Homo sapiens: one gene and its partners. The protein of the gene in region 5 purifies or fractionates together with the protein of the main gene of each other region. This does not show direct contact. Each region holds a gene or a part of one and is shown on either strand. Other genes may lie near its edges.

What was found.
Region 1: the proteins of PLAC1 (region 5) and TADA1 purify together in Homo sapiens (affinity purification with mass spectrometry; 3 studies listed by BioGRID and IntAct, with this or other methods). This does not show direct contact.
Region 2: the proteins of PLAC1 (region 5) and BRD8 purify together in Homo sapiens (affinity purification with mass spectrometry; 3 studies listed by BioGRID and IntAct, with this or other methods). This does not show direct contact.
Region 3: the proteins of PLAC1 (region 5) and OBSL1 purify together in Homo sapiens (affinity purification with mass spectrometry; 3 studies listed by BioGRID and IntAct, with this or other methods). This does not show direct contact.
Region 4: the proteins of PLAC1 (region 5) and ING3 purify together in Homo sapiens (affinity purification with mass spectrometry; 3 studies listed by BioGRID and IntAct, with this or other methods). This does not show direct contact.

Annotation. Positions count from the first base shown.
Region 1 is NC_000001.11:166,873,338-166,878,109, reverse strand, and holds the start of TADA1 (transcriptional adapter 1), read left to right. Parts: upstream 1-1,845; 5' UTR 1,846-1,876; coding exon 1,877-1,950; intron 1,951-4,772. UniProt on the Homo sapiens protein: Probably involved in transcriptional regulation.
Region 2 is NC_000005.10:138,150,725-138,154,855, forward strand, and holds part of BRD8 (bromodomain-containing protein 8), read right to left. Parts: intron 2,037-4,131; coding exon 1,758-2,036; intron 285-1,757; coding exon 21-284; intron 1-20. UniProt on the Homo sapiens protein: May act as a coactivator during transcriptional activation by hormone-activated nuclear receptors (NR). Isoform 2 stimulates transcriptional activation by AR/DHTR, ESR1/NR3A1, RXRA/NR2B1 and THRB/ERBA2.
Region 3 is NC_000002.12:219,561,289-219,565,419, forward strand, and holds part of OBSL1 (obscurin-like protein 1 isoform 1 precursor), read right to left. Parts: coding exon 3,954-4,131; intron 2,340-3,953; coding exon 2,067-2,339; intron 1,387-2,066; coding exon 1,114-1,386; intron 721-1,113; coding exon of another isoform or gene 596-720; exon of another isoform or gene 434-595; intron 1-433. UniProt on the Homo sapiens protein: Core component of the 3M complex, a complex required to regulate microtubule dynamics and genome integrity. It is unclear how the 3M complex regulates microtubules, it could act by controlling the level of a microtubule stabilizer.
Region 4 is NC_000007.14:120,963,908-120,968,038, reverse strand, and holds part of ING3 (inhibitor of growth protein 3), read right to left. Parts: intron 3,298-4,131; coding exon 3,201-3,297; intron 2,784-3,200; exon of another isoform or gene 2,568-2,783; intron 2,337-2,567; exon of another isoform or gene 2,206-2,336; intron 1,414-2,205; coding exon 1,342-1,413; intron 511-1,341; coding exon 391-510; intron 106-390; coding exon 1-105. UniProt on the Homo sapiens protein: Component of the NuA4 histone acetyltransferase (HAT) complex which is involved in transcriptional activation of select genes principally by acetylation of nucleosomal histones H4 and H2A.
Region 5 is NC_000023.11:134,655,177-134,659,808, forward strand, and holds the start of PLAC1 (placenta-specific protein 1 precursor), read right to left. Parts: upstream 3,296-4,632; 5' UTR 3,152-3,295; intron 1-3,151. UniProt on the Homo sapiens protein: May play a role in placental development.

The DNA of each region.
Region 1 (4,772 bases), on a different chromosome or scaffold from region 5:
AACTGTAGTAAAATTAGTGTTAATAGGTGTATAAGTGCTGAGAGAGAAAGGGATATTTAATTGAGCTAGACGTATGAGTATTGTCAAGCATGGGTTCAAAAAGAAAATCTTTGAGGCCTATCTTTCTTCGTGGCTAGAGACAAATGAGAAACAGGGATTCTTCCTGGAAGATGTACCCAACTATCTGTAGCCTTTCCTAGTCCTGTTGACTTGATCCTTGAATAGATTCATATATATGTTTGAACCTGATTCAAAAAAAATGGAGGTAGCCAACCATAAGTCTCAAAACCAGCAGAGAGGAGATATGCGTAAAGGGGAAGAGCCATGTGATTTGTTAAAGTCAAGTTAACTAGAATGCTGAGTCCAAGTGTGGGGTTATGTGGGAAGGCCAGTGGTGTGTGAGGTACACAGGTAGGGTGAGTTCAGATCATGAGAACATTTGAATGCTGGAGTCTGGAATTTGTTCAGCAGAGCGTGGGGAGCCATGGAAAACTTAAGTGGATATTTTTTAAATGTGTCAAAACTTACCCAGAGTTTTGACACAGAGAGGAAGACTTTGCCTGACCTTTGTATCTCCTTTCACCTGTGTATCTCCAGTACTCAAAGAGTTCCAGACACATAATAGGAGCTCACTGTATGAATTCAAGTGAAGAGAAGGTGCCCGGCTGGCATTGCAGCCAGGACAGGGCTTGTGGGTTTAGGTTGGGCAGTGAGGAAGTTGAATGAATGAACTTAAGGGGACATCTTTGGAGAAATTACACAAGATCTAAAAGCTATCTAGGATTATTTAAAAAACTTTGGGAGGCAATTTGACAATATACACCAAGGCATTTATAAATATTCCCATCATTTGATCCAGTAATTCTATGTGTGGGACTCTATGCTAAAGTAATAATCCTAAAGGAGGAAAAGTTTTATGCATAAAGAAGTTTTGCTTCATTATGCTATATGCTTCAAAAGCAATATTACAGTATTGCTTTTTAATAGAGAAGAAATGGACACAGTCTAACAATTGGGAAACAAGTTGTGTACCTTCTATCTGTGGGGGTATTTAATATGTTGTCATTAAAATTATTCTAAAGACAATGTAATACTACAGATAAATCCTTAAGTTTAAAAACGTGCAAAATTGAACATAGAATATTTTAAGTCATGGGAGTGTGCGAAGTGAAGGAGAAATCTCTCTCAGTTAAGTGTTTGTCCGGGAGTGGTAAAACACTTTTTCCTTCTTTTTATCTTTATCTTTCTGTGTATTTTCCAAATTTTACATAGTTACCTCATTTACTCAAATACTTATTAAGCATCCACTATGTGCCAGGCGCTGCTCTAGAGAATTGCGGGTAACAGTGAATAAAACACAACTCCTGTCCTCGAGCCATAACATTTACAAGATAAATCAACTAAATGTCATATGAGACGGTTAGTGCTCGGGGAAAAATAAGGCAAGGAAAGAGTAAAACTGATACTGCATTTACTTTTTTAAATGGAGGGGTAAGGTACTCCTCCAGGCAGAAGAACAGCAGGCTGAATTCGGAATTGCCCCAGCGGTAACAGAATGAAAGAGCTTGGGACACGCCAGCCTGTCAGCAACGTTGCAGCCGAGGCGGGGCGCGCGGGTTTAGGATGGGCGCGCGACAAGGTGAAGCGGATCACGTGACTCGAGGGGCGGGAGGAAGAGAGCAGAGTTTGGCCGGGCACCTTCCCTGCGAAAAGGCGGGCGGAGCCGAAAACCAAACAAACGACTTCTGAGAGATTGGGGGCGGGACTGACGGCGGCCGGCTTAGCTTCCAGAGCCAAGGCCTTCCGCCGAGTTGGTTTTTGGGTTGTTGATCGCGGTGGCCGGGCGGTCTGCGGTCGGGCTGAGACACGCGGAGCAATGGCGACCTTTGTGAGCGAGCTGGAGGCGGCCAAGAAGAACTTAAGCGAGGCCCTGGGGGACAACGTGAAACAGTAAGAGCTGCCCTAGCACAGCGTCCAGGCCAACACGCGGGTGCTCTCCTGGCCTCGGGCTGCCAGCCCGCCCCGGAGACGCCCGCGTCGCCCGGGGGCCTGTGCAGCCTGGAGTCCGCGGCGGCGGGGCTTCGGGGTTTCTCCGGCCGGGGCGGGGCGGGCCACCTGAACTCACCGCCCTGGAGAGACCGGGCCTCCTGGGCGCCCGGGAGACATCGGCGGGCGCCGTTGCTCGGGACTGTCTGCCCTGGGTGGGGCGGGAGAAGCGCACTTCGCACCCAAGGGCCTGCTGAGCAGGTGCGGGCCCCAGCGCGGGCGTGCGGGATGCGGGAGGCTGACTTGGGCGGAGTGAGCCGGAGCCCTACGCGTCCAGCCAGAGGGCATAGCGCAGGGCGGCCCGCCCCTGGAGGGCTTCCTGGAGGTGGAGGCCTGTTGAGCTGGTGTGATCTGCTACGGATTATTGGTAAGCTCTTTTGACAGCAATTTCGTAAGGCAGACGGACCCTCTGGTGAAATCACAGTCATTGAACACTACAATTATAGTGATGATAGCAGTAGCGGACATTTTAAACATTTTAAGCTCTCTAAATATATTATCTAATCCTTACAACAGATGTGAGATAGGTACAGTTGTTATTCCCATTTGACAGATGAGAAGACTGAGACCTAGTGCGGACAAGTAACTCTTCAAAAGTCACTGTCAGAGTTGGGACCCACGCTTTTGATTCCCGACTGATGCATTAGAGGGGCTGTAAAGGATCCCAGAGACGCTCAGCCAGACCTTCATCCAGGTTATGGCAGGGGACCTAGTGCACAGTCAGGTTAGGTGCAGAATGGCCAAGGGTAAAATCAGTATCCAGTCAAAGCCAAAGCCAAAGAGCAAAAAAGGAACCTCTGGGATACAAGGAAGAGTTTGGAAATTTTCAAAACGTTGTTATTACAACTTTATTTTTCAAAAATATAGGAAGCAAATATAAACGTTTAAAATTACAGTGCCTGTGTTGTTGCTGCTAGATGGCTTCTCTGGTATTCTACACATTTGCATTACTCAGTGGATGCATACTTTTAAATGATGTTGGTGGAGGAGCAATTTGGGAATACTTAATTTTTCTCCAATACTTTCTTTTCATCCTTCTCTGTTCTTTATTATTACTGGATTGAAATTACTTAGGTTGGATGTCATACATGAATTTTGGAGTTTTTCCTTCATGTGAAATTTTGGGGTGGCAGAGTTGACAGTCTACTTTTCATCCTAACAAGATAATAATGGAAACTATAAAAAGATTAAAATTAAAATCTAAACTGTTATTTTAGCATAATTATTTAATTTTTGGTGAACATTTATTTACGCCCAGAGATATGTTTCACTTTGTGTTTGGGGGTTGGGGTCTTGCTCTGTGGCAGAGGCCGAAGTACAGTGGCCTGATCACACAGTTCACAGCAACCTTGATCTCCTGAGCTCAAGAGATCCTCCCCTGCTGTGAGCCTATAACTGGGACTGTAGGCACGCCCCGCTAATCCTGGCTAAAGTTTTTTTTTTCAGAGACAAAGTCTTGCTGTGTTGCCCAGGCTGATCTCAAATCCTGGCCTCAAGCAGTCCTCCCGCATTGGCCTCCCAAAGTTCTGGGATTACAGGCATGAGCCACCACACCCGACTATAGTGTACCACCGAAAATTGTCTTTCGATATTGATGTTCACTGTGCTTATTGAATTAAATATTCTTACTTATTTTAATAGGTAAAATTGACAGCTTTCACCCTAATTACTGTAGCTTTTTACTTTTGTAATACCGACTGATAAAATTTACCTTTTTTTTTTTTGAGATGGAGTCTTGCTCTGTCGTCCAGGCTGGGGTGCAGTGGCATGATCTCCGCTCACTGCAGCCTCCACCTCCTGGGTTCAAGCACTTCTCTGCCTCAGCCTCCTGAGTAGCTGGGATTACAGGCACCTGCCACCACGCCCGGCTAATTTTTGTATTTTTAGTAGAGATGGGGTTTCACCATCTTGGCCAGGCTGGTCTTGAACTCCTGACCTCGTGAGCCACCCGCCTTGGCCTCCCAAAGTGCTGGGATTACCGACGTGAGCCACCGCGCCCAGCCAAAATTTACATTTTTAAGCACATAAGGGGCATTTCACTCTGTTCCATCTAGAATGCTTACAAATATTTGAAAGCAAACGTTTACATACCAAAATAAATCTGAAGGACCTGGCTTGTGTATGATTGCCTTTAACCCTGATTAGATGCAATGGTGACCTCTGTCATCCCATACTCATCAGTTACAGGTTCAGGGCTGCCAAAAGTGTTTTTGAAGTTAGCATTCCTTATTTAGTTTTTAAAGGCCAAAGCCGACTGTCTGATGTTGGTCAAATACTGATGCTGAAGCTAAATTTGGTGCATCTGGAGTGTGAATCCCCACTAAAATGCAATCAAAAGAGATTTTTATGCCAGAAACAGTTAATGGTAACGTATAGTTCTAAATTTGTTTTTCCATTCTCTCATTGTTCTTTTCCCTTCTCCTTAAAAAGTACCTCTGGGTTAAATAGTCAGTAATACTCTTGTACTGTACAGTCATTTCTTATATTTCCTCCATGAGCAGTTTGCTTTGGTTTGCACAACCTATTTAAGTGTGGTCCTCGGTGGTAGGCAAAACATACAGGGTTATGCACGGAGGCTGGATATGAGTTATTTGCTATTTATCCAGTGGTCTGAACATCCTTCATGTCTGACTGGTTGGGTTGTGTGCCCAAGCTGCTTCCAGGAAGACATGGGCTTTGCTAGGCAACTCACTTTGTATAGTAGCCAGTAGAATGCCATGTTCAAA
Region 2 (4,131 bases), on a different chromosome or scaffold from region 5:
GATTTAAGTTACTTTCTTACCTCTTCACTCTCTGTGAGTAGTCCCTGAACTGTACAAATAACTGAGGGAGCTGAAGCCACCTCTGGCTTTCCATTTTCTCCCAGTGGCTTTTCAGCTACTAAGGGGTCTCCTTTAGCTGAAAGCTCTTCAGTCTCTCTGCAGAGCTCCCTTTCTCCTTCGCTAGCTTTAATTTCCCTTCCTTCTTGTCTGGTACCAGATGGAGGGCAGCAGCCTTCACTTGATTCGTTGCTGCTGATGCACAAGGGCTCCATTAAATAAGCTACCTGCAATCAAAGTTTATTATTAGATGCACAGGAACACCACTGAAAATCATCATCCACATATCAACAATGCCACATGCTAACACTGTCACAGTGACTAAGTCTGAGAGGACAAAATGGTTTAATTAATACAATCATCTAAAATCTGCCAAAATATCTTATATACACAGGCACTGGGCTGGTTGGTGGGGACACTACAGTGAACAAGAAAGATATGGTTCTTGCCTCTTCCAGGAGTTTATGTTCTACTTTTTCATCTCAGCTGTCAACTCTGATCAATTGGGAGTGGCTGTCTAGAATAAAGTGTTGAAAATTTTGTCTACCACAGACACTTGTAGAGAGAAGTGGCAACATTTGAAATGGATGCTTGCTGATCTTGATCTAGGGTCTTCTAAATGTGTTCAATAACAGCATACATATAACTCTCTGTCCAATTCTGTTTATTTCTGGTCCTCAGCCCTTAACCAAGGTAATGACACTTAAAAATACTACCTTAAAGTTACAGCATTTTAAGCTTCAAGGAAAATTTGGGCAAGTATAACTTCCCACAACTCCAAAAGCATGAATTACAAGGATACTCATAAAGCAGTCCTTATGACCCAGGCCCCTAATGACTGAAGTATTAGAAATTCAGTCAAAAAGCATGTATTTTTTTATTTTTAATTTTTTTACTTTTGAGACGGAGTCTCGCTCTGTTACCTAGGCTGGAGTCCAATGGCACGATCTCAGCTCACTGCAACTTCCGCCTCCCGGGTTCAAGCGATTCTCCTGCCTCAGCCTCCCAGGTAGCTGGGATTACAGGCACATGCCACCAAGCCCGGCTAATTTTTTAATTTTAATTTTAATTTTAATTAATTTATTTATTTAGAGACAGAGTTTCGCTCTGTCGCCCAGGCTGGAGTGCAATGGTGTGATCTCAGCTCACTGCAACCTCCGCCTCTCAGGTTCAAGTGATTCTCCTGCCTCAGCCTCCCGAGCAGCTGGGATTACAGGCGCCCGCCACCACGCCCGGCTAATTTTTTGTATTTTTAGTAGAGATGGGGTTTCACCATGTTGGCCAGGCTGGTCTTGAACTCCTGACCTCAAGTGATCCGCCCGCCTCGGCCTCCTAAAGTGCTGGGATTACAGGCATGAGCCACTGCGCCCGGCCATTTTTGTATTTTTAGTAGAGATGGGGTTTCACCATGTTGGCCAGGCTGGTCTCGAACTCCCAACCTCAAGTGATCCACTGGCCTCAGCCTCCCAAAGTGCTGGGATTACAGGCGTGAGCCACTGCACCCGGCCCAAAAAGCATGTATTTGGTGCATATTCTGTATCAGCACCAAGTGCTGAGGACATAGCAATGAACTTAATCCCTGCCACTGTGGAGCTTATATTTTAGTAAACAATATTAAGAGTGGTAGAAGCATGTAAGGATAAGCATTCTCTTAGAAAGTTGAGGCTTTTCCAGCTTTGGAAATAAGAGCTCACTGTTACCTCAGAGAGAAAGTGGAGGAGGTTCTGGTGGCTGGCTTTCCTTGCCGCTTCCTGAGATTCCTCACTGCCTCCATCCCCAACAAGCAGTTCACTAGGTTCTCTCTCCGGGCTGCTTTCCTCTAGTTCCTCAGCCTCTGGATCCTCAGTTTCCCTCCAGTTGCCCACATCAAGATCCAGACTGGAGTCCCATGAGCTGAAGAGGGACCTGCAGTCATTGCTCAACTCAGAGTCATTGGGATGATCTTGTTCAGAATCCAGCCAAACCCACTCGTGTCCCATCTGTAAATACACAGGAAAACATGCATTAAATTCATTCAAATAAATATTCCTGAGGCATCTCCATCTCCCGAGTTCAGTAGAAAAATAAGGGGCCAGAAATTTATTTGTATTCAAGTATTCATCATTAGGAAGAATTAAAATCTTGCTGAAGGGAGACATGAGATGAAATTATATTTGTCTTTGGGAATAAAGAAAGCCCCATGTCAGTATAACAGAGATATTGCACCATACAATACAGTATAATAGAGACATTAATATTACCTAATAATTATTTTTACTTGGAATTCCTCATATTCACACCAAAAGAAGGGAAAGAACTGGAGCATAGCTAGCTCAATTATTTTCCTCTAGCCCAAATCATCCATAACTAAACCGTAAGGCAAACAAATTGAGGGGGCAGGGGATATTTTCCTCAGTGTATAAACATTTTTAACCTATGAACCATTAAACCTTCAAAACACACTTTAGGATTGCCTTTGGCATCCTTCTGGTCATATCCAAATTGATGTTGAGAAACATTAAGCTTAAAATATATCTTCCCTTGCTCTCATTACACCACTATCTTGGTTTTTTTATATCTTTCTTTGTCCTCTCCCTTTTACAACTTTCAATAAATCCCTACCTTCTATGTTCATGCTTGGTCCTCTGCTTTCTTATTAATGTATTTTAAAAAAATGTATATATACTTTGAGGTTTCAACTTTGACCTCTATTCAGGTGGCTCCCAAATCTCTCTACCTTTACTTCTTATATGAATTCTGGTGTCATTTCTCCATGCATCCAAAAGTCAATTCCCTTTAGATGCTCTACCACCTGCTGTAACATTTCTAAAATAAAAATCACATTTCCTTTATCTCCAAAATCACTGCTTCTTCCCAATTTCCTTATCCCCATCACCATTTTCTTTTCTTTTCTTTTTTTTTTTTTTTTTTTTTGAACGAACTTTCACTCTTGTTGCCCAGGCTGGAGCACAATGGCCCAATCTCGGCTCACTGCAACCTCTGCTTCCTGGGTTCAAGCAATTCTCCTGCCTCAGCCTCCTGAGTAGCTGAGATTACAGGTGCCCACCACCATGCCCGGCTAATTTTTGTATATTTATAGAGACGGGGTTTCACCATGTTGACTAGGCTGGTCTTGAACTTCTGACCTCAGGGGATCCACCCACCTTTGCCTCCCAAAGTGCTGGGATTACAGGCGTGAGCCACCACACCCGACCCCATCACCATTTTCTTAGTCTACAGAACCCACAATTCTGTTTTGACCCTTCCTTCTCTTATATTCAGTAAGCAAGTCCTCTTCCCAGTTTTCTCCCACAATAAGTTTTCTCAGTGTCCATCCTTTCCTGAATAAATGCCATAGTCTCCTAGTCAGCTTTTCTATCTTTAATCCTATCTGCTCTCAACAAATATAGTTATTCTACTCAAGGCTTTATAACAGCTATCACCTCAAATATAAATTTCTCAATCTGCCAAAGTCCTCCACAAATTTAGCCTTATTTTGTTCCCTTCACTCACATGTACACCTCCTTATTCCTTAGTATAATCCCTGTTCTAATTACATTTTTCTCCGTATTGCCACCCACCACCCCCACCAGATGCCTACACCTTCCATTCGGTTTGCTAGTCTCATTTATCACCTTCTCTACCAACTCAAAACGTATGTCCTTTAATGGACCTTTTCCACACACTTCTCCCAGCTTTTAGAGCTTGTGTTTGTATCTCATGCCTGTTTGCAGACTGCTTTGGGACTACAATGTTATTTTTTATTTTCCTTTCTTGTTTGCAACATGTCCATGTAACAAGGAATTTCATGTTCTAACTCCTGGACTAATTGAATACCTTTCCATTGCCTCACAAAGACTGTATCTTCTCTTCCTTAGCATCCTAATATAGTTCTATTAAAGGCAAAAAGATCTGTGACTTCTAATCGTATCCTCTTAAACCCTTCTCAAGAAGACTTTGACTATTAGACCAGGCTCCAGTGTGACATATTGTCTAAATATTTAGTTATAAAGTGATATTCATCTAATATTTTTTCATCATAGCCATGTTTATAATAAAAAGTTCATAACTTTTTTTTTTTTTTTTTTGAGATGG
Region 3 (4,131 bases), on a different chromosome or scaffold from region 5:
GCCCTATGGACCCCCAGCCCCAGACACACACTGGGCTGGGCGCTGTGAGCCGTCACCCCGAGGTCTCCGGCACTGAACCTCCGTCACTTCCACAGTTGTCCTGTGCTTCTCCCGCTTTGAATATTCCCCCACACCCCACCCCACTTAGCTCCAGTATCAGCTTTGAAAGCACTTCCTGTTGCCTGGCCAGGGTGGTGGCTCCCAGCCCCAGGGTCCCTAGACTGGCCCTCAACAACCCATGCTCTAAGATCCTGGAATGCGTCTGGCTTTCCTGCCAGGCTGTGCAGTCCTAGAGGGAAGCGGCCGTGTCTGCGTGCTGCTGGCTCCCGTGTGTGGAAGGGTGACTTTCTCCCAGGCCTCCCTGACCCTCCTGCTCTGTGCTCTTGAGCCCTCTGCCCTTGGCCCTCACAGTACTTATCACCAGGTGTCACTGTACATTTATTTGCATGTTTATTGGTTTAACACAGGGGTCGCAAACTCAAATGCCCACAGGGGCCAGGTTAGGTTAGCGGCTGAAGCAGTCTGGGGAGAGGCAAAAAGCAATGGCAGGGAGGTGGGACAGAGGAATGTGGGCCCCAAACTATGGGGGCAGCTGCTACTCAGTGCCAGCTGTTCGTCGCCATGGGGGGAAGCGGGACCAGAGCCGCCGGGTCTTCGGCTTTTTCAAGAGGACGCATAACTCCGGATTGTTATTTGAACTGTCCTGACTTTGGTAAGACTCTGCAGACCAAACAAAGCACATGTGTGGAATGCGCAGGGCCCCAGGACTACCCGTTTGCGACCCCTGGTTAACAGCTGCCTCCTCACCTAGCCTGGCAGCTCATTCAGAATAGGGACCGTATTTGCATTACTCACCTGCTACTCCCAGTGCCTGATTCAGGGAAAGTGCTCAGTAAATGAGCTGTGGAGCAGAGCTAGGCCTGGCCTTGGGCACCGGGGAGGGGCTTGTTTCCTTGAATAGGGGCCCTGGGCTCATCTCAGCAAGAACCCTGGCACATGCACCTGCAGCCCACACCTCCCTCCTCCCCGGGGTGCTAGCTGGGGCTATGTGGCCAGCTCCTCCAGGGCTCAGGGCTGTCTCTGTGACCCCGGGGAGCTGGGCTGGGCCCACACCTGTGACGGTGACAGTGAAGGAGGCCGACTCATCGTCAATTTCACACAAGTACTCGCCGGAGTCCTCGAGCTGGACAGCGGGCAGCACCAGGCGGCGGACAGTGTCTTCCTTCTGCAGGAGCAGCGCGGGGCTCTCCACCACCTCCTCTCCATCCTTGGTCCAGCGCACCTCTGCCCAGGGCCGGCATAGCTCACAGGTCAGCACCACACGCTCCAGGCGCACGGCTGCCACATACACCTTGCCGCTGGGATACACGATCCACGAGGAGACGTCTGGAGGACAGGGACAGCCACTGCCGGGCATGAGGGGTGTGCCCTGCCGTCCTCCCTGACCCCGTTGTGTTCCCTACCCCTGGAAAGTAGGCCATGTGTTGAAGAGGGACCTTCCTGAGACCAAATCTCACAGCAGCTGACAGTTACTCACAGCTAGAGACACACGAATACAGCTGTCACAAAAGCACAGCAGACTTTCTGCTGCGCAGGAGCTGCACAGAGGGGACCACGGGGTCAGCCTCGGCTGTAGAAACGCTCCACATTCTCTGGGTTGGGACAGGGACGGTATGAAGGGTGGAACTGATGAGAGGAGGGTTGGGGGGAGGAGCTGGGGGTCTCCTCCTCCAAGATGTTTTTGCCCCCCTAGTGCCTGAGACCACCAGCCCTAGACTCTGCCCTACCCTGCAATAGACTCACTGTCCCCAGAGATTTCCCTTGGTACAGGTTTTCAGGAGAATAGAGAAAGCCAGGCTTCCTTAGCCAAGACCAATGTGCTTATGATAACACGTTTCCTGAATGTGACTAGACCATAGCTTGAGGAGAAAGGGAGGAGGTCCGATCTGCCAGGGGGAGGGCAGTAGGGGCGGGGAACAGTGGCCTGGGAGTGAAGGTGTGGCAGCTGTTCCAGTGGGAGCAGGGGCACCTTCCCCTGTGCCTCCGAGGCCCACCTGGCCCCCCACCTGTGATGGTGACAGTGAAGTAGGCACACTCATCTCCAGCGACGCACTGAAACTCGCCCCCGTCTGAGGGCTGGGTGGCGGGCAGCACCAGGCGGCGATGGGGCCCCTCATTCTCCAGCACCACGAAGTCACTCTCCTCCACCTCCTGCCCGTCCTTGTACCAACGCACAGGGGCGTCCTCTCGGTCCACCTCACAGGCCAGCATGACACACTCGGAAGTTATGGCATGCACGAACACATGTTCTCGGGGGTCCACGATGTGCACGGGAGGATCTGGGTGGGAAGCAGAGATGGCATTGCACAGACACCCCCGCACAATGAGTCCAAACTAGCTGTGTGGCCAGGAGACACTGTTTCTGCACAAGAGGACACTGGAGGAGGGCTAAGGTCCTGCTGTGTAGGGACTCAGGGACAATGACAAGGAATGCTGAGGGCATGGCAGGTGAGGCATGGCAGGAGATCATGTGGCACCAGAGTGCTCTGTAGGTCCCCAAAGGATCAGAGGTGGCGGGGTGAGTACATAGAGAGAAGGAAGCACAGAGAGTTCACAGAGTGGCAGCCACCATTTGTCTAGGCTGAAGGGAGGTCACTGTCACAAGTCACATCAGGGCCATGCTTACTGCCTCTATTACGAGAAAGACCCCAGGGTGGGCAGGAGGTGAAGGATGATCCAACAAGTGGCAACAGTGAGACAGCCACTCTCCAGGTAGTGGGTTCCCTGTCACTGGGTGCATTCAGGCAGGGGCCACAGTGTGGAAAACAGGACTCCCACTCAGTGAGATGAGTGGGATCCATGGTTCCCAAGCTGCTCTCTCAGAGAGTCTGCACTTGTTAGGAAAGGATCTTCAGGCTCCACCCTGGATACTGGGGCTCTGGACAGTCCAGGGATTTATAACCAGCTTCCAGGAGCTTCCTAAAGCAGCCAGCCTACGGACTGCCTTGTGAGAACCACGGGGTGACTGCACTCGATGCTTCTGTTTGACTCTATCTGAGGCAGCAGGAACAGAACAATCCTGTGTGTGTCGCCAAGCTATGGTGTGACGGAGGTCACATAACCTCTTACAGCCTCCATTTCTTTGCCTGTGAACTGGAGATATATTGCCCCTCATCGAGTTGTGAAGATTAAATGAAAGAGTGTATATTGAAAATACTTAGCATAGTGCTTGGCTCAGAGTAAGTGTCCAAAAAGTGTTTGCTCCCATCTCTCCTCCCCTTAATTGCATTTTGTTCCCCCACCCAACCCAGCAGAGGCTATGTGGACAGCGAGACAGTGTTAGTGTATCAGGGGTTTAGGAGGCAAAGGCACGCTGTGCGTGGCACACACCTATAATCCCAGCTGCTCAGGAGGCTGAGGAAGGAGGATCGTTTGAGCACAGGAGTTCAAGGCCAGCCTGGGCAACAGTGAGACCCTCATCTTAAAAAAAGAAAGAAAGAAAGAAAGCCAGGCATGGTGGCTCATACCTATAATCCCAGCATTTTAGAAGGCTGAGGCGGGCAGATCATTTGAGGTCAGGGGTGACCTAACCAACATAGTGAAACCGTCTCTACCAAATAATAAAAAAATTAGCTGGGCGTGGTGGCGCGCACCTGTAGTCCCAGCTACTTGGGAGGCTGAGGTGAGAGAATCGCTTTAACCCAGGAGGCGGAGGTTGCAATGAGCTGAGATCACGCCACTGCCCTCCAGCCAGGGCAACAGAGTGAGAGCCTGTCTCCAAAAAAAACAAGAAACAAAAAAGCAAGTGCAGAGTTATCTGAAACATGTCCCCTGGGCCACTGGACTCTCCCTGTAAAGGACTCCCCCAAGTAGGCAGCAGACCAGAGGGCATGGCTTATGCGGCCCCACAATCAGCCTTGGCTGGAGGAGCCCAGGCTGGCATGCTTCCTGACCTTGGACAGTGACGCCGAAGAAGGCCGAGACCCCTTCTGTCCTGCACTCAAACTCGCCACTGTCCTGGACTTTGGCCTCAGGCAGGATCAGACGGTGTTTGCGCCCATCCATCTTCACCACCAGCAACTCGCTCTCCTCCACCTTCTGCCCATCCTTGTACCAGGTTGCCGGGAAGTC
Region 4 (4,131 bases), on a different chromosome or scaffold from region 5:
CAGTTCCTGAAGATAACGAGCCAATGTTATAGGATCCCAGAGGTTGGGAGGAATTCACATTGTAGGCATTGTTAGAAGAGGCTGTGGAATTATTATTTCGACAACCTGTGTAGATGTAAAAAAGAAATAAAAATGGTTGCAGAGAACATAATGTTAGTGAGTCTAAATTACATTATTTCCCAGCACAGACATATAATCATTAAAATTTTTAATGTCACTTGTACATTAAGTCAACTGAATAATGTATTTGGTTTTCCTTTTTCTTCTTTCTCCATATGTATACTTTAACCAGGTAAAGAAACTGTATGATTCATTAATCCTGAAACACTTTATTTCCCCTTACTCTAACACAAACAAACAAAGCAATCATATTTAAGAAAATTAACTTACCTAGTGTATTTTCCTTAGAGGCATCTGACGTAAGGGTGGATAGAAGAGCTTCAGATTTAAATTTCTTTTCAGGAATATGATCTGTTGTCGTATGGTGAGAAGTTGGATTATATTTCCTTTCTAAATATAAATAAAAAATTCATGTGTTTTTAAACTTTAGAGAACTATGGACAAGGCATAATACTTATATCCAGTTAAAATGTGAAACAGTATGATCTGGGTTCCTCATAAAATACAGAACATGATGTTTCCTCAGAAGGCAGGACAAGCAGAACTCTGTGTCACATGTTTATTAAGAGTAGACTTCTCCACCATTTAAAAAACTTCTAGCAAAGTACTAAAGATAACCCAAGATACACCATGGGCTCACATACAATGTGAGGGAAATTTTGTTTTCAAAACACAATCTACCACTTAAAATAGTTTCCCACCAAATTGATGTGTCAAAAGATGTACTGATATAGTCATTTTTTGACTGTTACCAACCAGCCAGCCAGTCATCTAACTAACAATTCATCCACTCACTGACTTACCAACCATTCAGACTTAATTATATGCCAAACATTAGGTTAAGCACTGGAGAAGCAAGGATGAAAAAGACAAAGGGCCTATTACAAAATAGCTTATTGTTTGGCTCAGTTGAAAAGCTCCCTAAGGAGAATGCTCAGTTGAAAAGCTCCCTAAGGAGAATCAGGTATGTGTATGAAGGGAATATATGCTATTAGTACTATACATTCTCCTTCTACGCATTTAAGAGAAAACAGAATACTCATTTCCGAATCACATATGCTCCCCCCAAGGAAAAAGACAAGTCTGCCAGTACTTGCAATGAAAAAAAAAGAAGGGATTTATTTCTCAATTGGTTGTGTAGAGTTAAAAAAAGAGAACATATAGGTGATATAATAAGGTTTTCATTGTTTTTAAAACTTAGCTGCACTACACCAAACTTACTTTCCACTGGAGTATGTGAATGAGCATGGTGATTGTTCACTGGCTGTGAAGGAGTGTCTAATTCCAAAGATCCTAAAAGAAGAGAGGCACAGAGATACACCACCATTAAATGTCACCGCAGAACTTCACATGTCACTCAACTACAGGCAATGAGTTCCCTTACCCAGCAGAGGACTAGCAAGTTCTGATGCATATGCCTGTATTTATTTTAGCCAGACATGTTAGAGGATCACCACTGTCCATCCCACACTGAGTTATCCTCTCTCTAAACAATAAGTTATCCTTTTCCCAATATTAATCTTAAGTACAAAATGGCTCAAGGCATACTCGTGTCTAATTAGGGAATTCACCATAGTGGGTGCCATATAAATGGATGAATGGACATTGTAATCTCATTACTGGTAAGAGTCAACCTAGTTTTACTGAGTTGAAGACCTTTTAATGGGAGATTCTGAAGTTCTACGTGATGGGGGACATTACTATATGAAAAAAATTATTTGATCATTAAAATGACATTATGATAATAAAGACTTCCTAAAAGAAGTTAGGGATTTTGTTCGCAAAAAGTGAGGAATAGAATCTCTAACACCAAGCTTTAAAATACCTCTAAATACATTTTTCTGGGTTTATTTTTGATCCCTTGAGATGAAATTATGGCAGGGCACAGGGTGGAGCAGTTTTTATAACTTGATCCAATTTTGTTTCATATGTCTGTGTCCTTAGAGAGGATGCTTTATTAACCTTCCTGCAGTACTGAATAGGCATGAATTATCATTACTCACAGCTATCATCAGCATTTTTAAAAAATCAAAGCAGATACAGAATTTTTAATTTTGTCTCAAAATACTTATTATCTTTATATAGGGTTCCTCCAGAAGAAAAGTATCACAAATAAATAGGATGATTATCTAAAGTGATGGATCTACTTTTGAACACAAAAATGCAACTATGGATACCAAGACAGATCTGTGATTGGCTTCCCTAGCTGACTTCTAGTGAGTAGAGAGATACATAGATTGGCACTGTAAAGAAATCTTTCATCTGTGTGTAGAAACAGGTACATATTCTTACTGTTGAAATGCACCAAGAAAAAGAAGGTTTGTAAGTTTTAATTAAATTCTAGTAGAAATTAGCCATAATATTAATTTGGTTCAATTAACATCTAGTGAGTGCCTACTCTACACCTAGTACCACACTAACTGCTTTTATGTACATTACCTATTTAGGTTGAAGAAATGCTAAATTAGTTAAGGAAACAGTGCTCATGCTTCCATTTTTGGGAAGTCACACCAAAGAAGTGACAGGGGTAAGTTATAGCAGGAGATCAAATAGAGCCTTGCAAAGAAATATCAAAATGGTTTCTTGCTGCTAAGGGAAAGAAGAAAACACTTCTTTAAGAAAAAGAGGTAGTGTTATGAAACCAATGTGAGTCTTTTTCAGTATATGCAGTTAAGGAAAAGCCATAAAGTAATTCTTAAGAAGAGAAACTAACAACTTTCCTCAAAGCTTAAGTGTATAAAGAGGCAGAGTAAAGTCAACACACTTAATGCAAGATGGTTAATTTGTCTCCCGATGGTTACATTTCTTTAAATTTGTTCTTACCACTCAACTTACTAGTATATGTGGATATAAAATGATTTAATATGTTGTTTCATAAAGAGTGAGTGGATGATATCCTATATTATCTCTCTCAGTATGCATGACCCAAACATTTCCAACTGTTAGGGTCCAAGCTATCTGGCCTGGATGCCACCATCCATTGAAGGGCAGGATTTCAAAAGCCTCTGTGGGACAAGGTCTTCTCAGCGATTTGCACATGTACTGTCCAATATTGATGGAAAACTGTAAATTTTACTTACGCCTCTCTAATATTTCTGTAATTCCAGCATTATCAGCTTCCAGCTCCATTTTAAACTTAGCCAGTTCCTGATCCAGCTTTCTCAAGTGTCGATCTACCTGTTTCAAAGAAGATCAAAGATAACCACCAAAATTTGGGACACTGTTAAAGTGTCAGCTTAATGAGGAAACCTAAATTTTTGTTTCTTTTAGTGAATCTGCTTAGTATCCTTGAGCAAGTCAATTAATCTATGCCTCAGAGGTTTTTAATCTATAAAATGAGGGTGTTAGGCTAAATAATCTCCCAAGTCTCCTTCAATAAATTTTAAGTTCTAAGACCCAGACTCTCAACTTGTTAGGAAATGTTCTATACTCCATTTTCAGAAGTCAGGACATGAAAATTAAAGCAAAACTGATTAGGGATTAGAGAATGGGAGGAGGGGATGGTGGAGGCTGGTCACTTTTCATAATATGCCCTGTGATTACTTAGAGCCTAATCTCCTCCTGCTTATAAGGCCATCATCCACACTGTCATACGATAAAAGCTATTATTTAGAATGATGAAAGATCCTCAGTCTACAAAGAAGTTCCTATATTCTATACATCTATTACTCTAAGGCATGAGAGTGAATCATAATGCTTGTAAACATTTATGTGAAGAGGTGAAACAAAAGGGATTGTTAGCCAGAAAACTCCATTCCTCAAAGGATCTGGTTAAAATTATTTTATTTATAATACTATTTCCCTAGTTAACTTGGCAAAATTTTATTTTGTCACTGAGAGATCTTTTGACTAATTTCAGAAAATTATATGACACTTCAAACTAACAAAAAATGTCTTAATGTATTTTTTAAACTTAATATTAAATATTTTAATATTTTTTCAAACTCATTACTTTGAAGTGAAACCAAAAAATACACAAATTCTTTGAAAAATATTCATGTCACATTATTG
Region 5 (4,632 bases):
TGCATTATTTTTTCCTGAATTTTATTTTGAAAAAATTCAAACGTACAAATAGATCAAAGAAGTAGAACAATGAACATACATATAACCACCAAGATTCCACAATTAACATTTCAACATAGTTGCTGTGTAGTTCTGTTTCTATCAGTCAATCTATTTACACACACACACACACACACACACACACACACATATATTTGAAGGTCACAGGCATCATAACACATTCCCACTAAATTCTTCAGAATGACTCTTTAAAGAATAAGAAGATTCTCCCTCCTAACCACAATATATTATCACAGCTAAGAAAATAAACAATAATTCCTAATATAATCTAATTTCCAATCCATATTCAAATTGCCCCAATATTCCCCAAATGTCTTTCATAGCTTTGTAAAATCCAGAATCCAAAACCAAGGTTTGTGTATTGCATCTACTTATGTCCCTTTAGTGTCGTTTAATCTAGAACAGTGCATGCTCCTAATTTTTGTGTGTGACACTGAATTTTTGAAGAGTTCAGGCTAGTTGTCTTGTAGAATATCTCATATTCTGAATTTGTCTGTTTTCTTATGGTATGTGTGTTTTTAAAAAAATAAAAAGATTTAATAGCAATAATAATAAAAGAAACCAGGCTCTGTTTTATATAAACAGCAACCTTAAAATGAGTATGCTATCCCAATATGCCTAGTAGCAGCATTGCCCAGTCTTCTGGTTCCCATATCAGATTCTTTAATCATCCCGCTGTCCTTCTTTCTCCTTATTCAGCCAGTTCCCAAGTCTGTGAATTTGCCCTTTGACATGCCTAATGGCTTAATGCCTTCTCTAGTCCCACCATGCCCCTACCCTGGATCAGGCCTTCAATACCTCAGCCCTAAAGTATTGCAACTGCCTCCTAATTGACCCCTCTAGTGCCAGAATCGTCCCCTGAACACCTGCTGCACTGTGAATATAGAAAACACACTGCCTTTTCTACGTCACTCCTATCTGGAAAACCATCAATGGCTATTTCCTATTTCTCATCTTTCTTCAGTCAGAGCCAGCTTTGAATGTAGCCTTCAACACCAGACAGAGACCGATCTCTACCTAAATCCTAGTGCTGCCATTACTTGCTGAGTGGCCTTAGAGAAGTCACTAGGCTTATCTGGCCTTCCATTTTCTTATCTGTAAATTGGAAATAACAGTTGTGCCTACCTCTCAAGTTTGACCAGCATTTGCCCACAGAGCTCCCACCTTTTCTAGGGGTCACTCCAAGCCTCATCCTTTCTTTAAGTCTCAGCTGAAGCCTTGCCTCCTCCAGGAGGACTTCTTATTCACAGCAGCACCCCCTCTCTGAATTTCCATAGCACTTGTGGTCTATAGGGAAGAATTTAGCAGATACTAGTCTTATTGCCCACTCATATTTACATTTTCCTCTTTTTTTCTTTTCTTTTTTGAGATGCGGTTGTGCTCTGTCCCCCAGGCTGGAGTGCAGTGGAGTGATGATGGCTCACTGCAGCTTCGATCTCCTGGGCTCAAGTGATCCTCCCATCTCAGCCTCCTGAGTAGCTAGGACCACAGGTGTGCCCCACCAAGCCTGGATATTTTATTTTTAGTTTTTGTAGAGACGGTGTCTCCCTACATTGCTCAGGCTGGTCTTGAACTCCTGGGCTTAAGTAATCCTCCTGCCTCAGCTTCCCGAAGTGTTGGGATTACAGAAATGAACCACCATGCCCAGCCTTTTTTTTTTCTTTTTTAACATTTGTAGACATTTTCATCTTATCTGCTCATTTGGATGGCCAGGGCCCCTTGAGAGCAGGAGTAGATCTACCCATTGTTTCTCCTAGAGCCTGTTAGAGAGCTAGTGCTATGCTGAGCATCCAGCAGCTCCGAGCTGTCACTTGACCGTGAGAAGATGCTTTGTTCATCTTTAGAGTCCTCCTTTAACTCTGATTGTCTCTAACTCCAGTGAGACAGGAAGGACCAAGGGTTGCGACCATCATCCAAATAATCATAGTAATTCCACCTATTTATAGAGCACCAATTATGTATCCAGCACCTTGAACATACGGATGCTCCTTGACTTATGATGGGGCTATGTCCCGATAAAACCATCACAAATCAAAAATATCATAAATCAAAAATGCATTCAGTACCCTAATAAGCCCGTCATAATGTCAAAAAATTGCAAGCCAAACCATTGCAAGTTGGGGACTGTCTGTATATTCTATTTGATGCCAATTAAGCAGATAAAGAAACAGAAGATCAGAGAGGATAAGCAACTTGCCCAGTGTCACTCAGCTATTAACTGCTGAAGCTGGAACTTGAACCCAAGTTTGTTTAAATACAGAGCCCATATTTGTTCCCTGCTGCCTCTGTAGTAACAGTGATCAGTATATTGATAGAAAGAAGGACAAGTTATTAGAGCTGCTGGGATTAGAATGCAATTTATTCTACTACTCTTTTTATAAATGAGAATGTCCACCCTGAGAGTAACATTGTGCTACCAGTGGTGGTGTAGTTTCTGTGAATCTGTTTCCTCTCAGAATCAAGGTCCAGAGACATGCCTCTCTGTGGTCATGGGAGAGAATGAGACAAAGCAGCTCACAATGGATTTAGGGTCCCTGTCTCTTTCTCAAAGAGTCTGAAACTGATCATCTGGGTTAATAGGAACACACAGCTAAAAGCAATGATAAAGATAAGTAGGAGAGTAAAGGAAGAGAGAATGATGAGATGGCAAGTAAACAGGGGAAAGAATAGGCAGTTAGACTGGGAAATATGTGTAGGGGAATCCCACATGAATCCCTAAAAAATACCCTGTGCAGTTGGGGAGTGGTGCATGTGTGAGTGTGTGTGTGTGTGAATGTATGATATTGATTTTAGATCTATGTGTGTGTGTGTTCAATCTTTAGATTTAAATAAAGAACAGACCAAATTCAGAGTCTAACTGCCTCCTTCTCAGCAGCCACTTCATCACCCCCATGTCACATTTCCCAGCTGGAGGGCAATAATTGCATGGCCAGATCTGGCCCCATCTGGGAAACACCAGGGTCTTCCTGAATCGTCATACACCATGCTGGCTGCCAAGGCATAAGGTGACCTAAGCGAAGCTTTCACACAGGCCATGTGCACAGTCATAAAATCTCGAGAGAATGTGGCAACAGAGACAGACTTGACTTACCTGCCAAATTTCCAAAGGGAAGAAGGAACTTGCTGTGTCTGTATTTGCCCCCAGGATTGGAAAAATGTATCTCAGTCACTGGAACTGAAGAGGGGTGGCCTTTACCTTCATAGGAGAGTCACTCTTTATACAAATCCTTCTGATGGTCTGATATATGTGTGTGTCTTTATATAAATAGAGCTATATACTGACTTTGCCAGATTGCATCAGCTACCTGCTTAACATTTTACTCTGGTGCTTTCGAAACAACACTCTGAAAGTCAGAATAATATGTGGCCTCTGCAGCATTTCCCAGTTTGGCATTTTGTTTACAGAGTAAAAGAAAGCTACTCACCCTTGAGATCATCAGTGATTGAATGATACCTACTGTCATGTGTTAGAAGCCATGTCACCTTGACAGAACTCATTCACAGGAAGAAGGGCGGGGAGGAGGGTTACAACATGGTGGTGGTAATTCTTAGAGAAATCAAGCAGTGAGCTGGCCACTTGTAGTGCTTGCTGTTGCCAAGGCAGTCTTTCGTGTCTTTACTCAGTAAACACATATCAGGCATAGGGAATACAAAAACAAATAATATATGTCCCTTCCCACCAGGAATCCAGCCTTTGTCCCCAGTTCTCTCAAGGAGCCCACTGCCAAATGAGAGGTAAGCCTCTTCAGGAAGAATGCTCAGGGAGAATGAGAACACATGGACCCAGGGAGGGGAAAACACACACTGTGGCCTCTTGGGGGGCTGTGGCGGGTGGAAAGCATCAGGAAAAATAGCTGATGCATGCTGGGCTTAATATGTAGGTGATGGGTTGATCGATGCAGCAAACCACCATGGCACATGTTTACTTACATAACAAACCTGCACATCCTGCACATGTACCCCGGAACTTAAAATTTAAAAAAAAAAGAAAGAATTTTTAGGGATTACTGGTCAGTATGGTTGCCTGAGCTGTTGCAGGAAGCTCCTCCCCTGCTCAAAACACATTGTTTTTTCAAAAATTTAAATATGTTGTAGAGAGCAAAAGCAAAAATAAACATATTCTAGTGCCAGAAATGAAGAGGGAGCTCAAAGCCACAGCAGCAACTACACAGCCCACAGAAGAACCAAAGGTGGTCACATATCCTGGGCGAAGGGTTTGAATGGCAGGGTGGGAACGGGAGTGGAATCTGAGCTCCTATGGAAAGTCAGTAGTGGTAAGTGCTGGCCCATAAGTGGGGATGGGGGAAAAAACACAGTTCAGAAGTGTACTGGCCACTTTGAGCTGAGAGTAGGCAGTCACATAACCCAAAGTACATAAGACTCCAAGGTAAAACAATTCCTGCCAAATAACAGTAATTACACTAGCCAAGTGCTTAATTATGTGCCAGATGCTGTCCTAAGTGCTTGGCTTATATTATTTAGGTTGATGCAAAAGTAATTGCGGTTTTTGCCGTTGAAATTAGTGGCAAAAACTGCAATCATTTTCCACCAACCTAATAACTCATTTGTAGA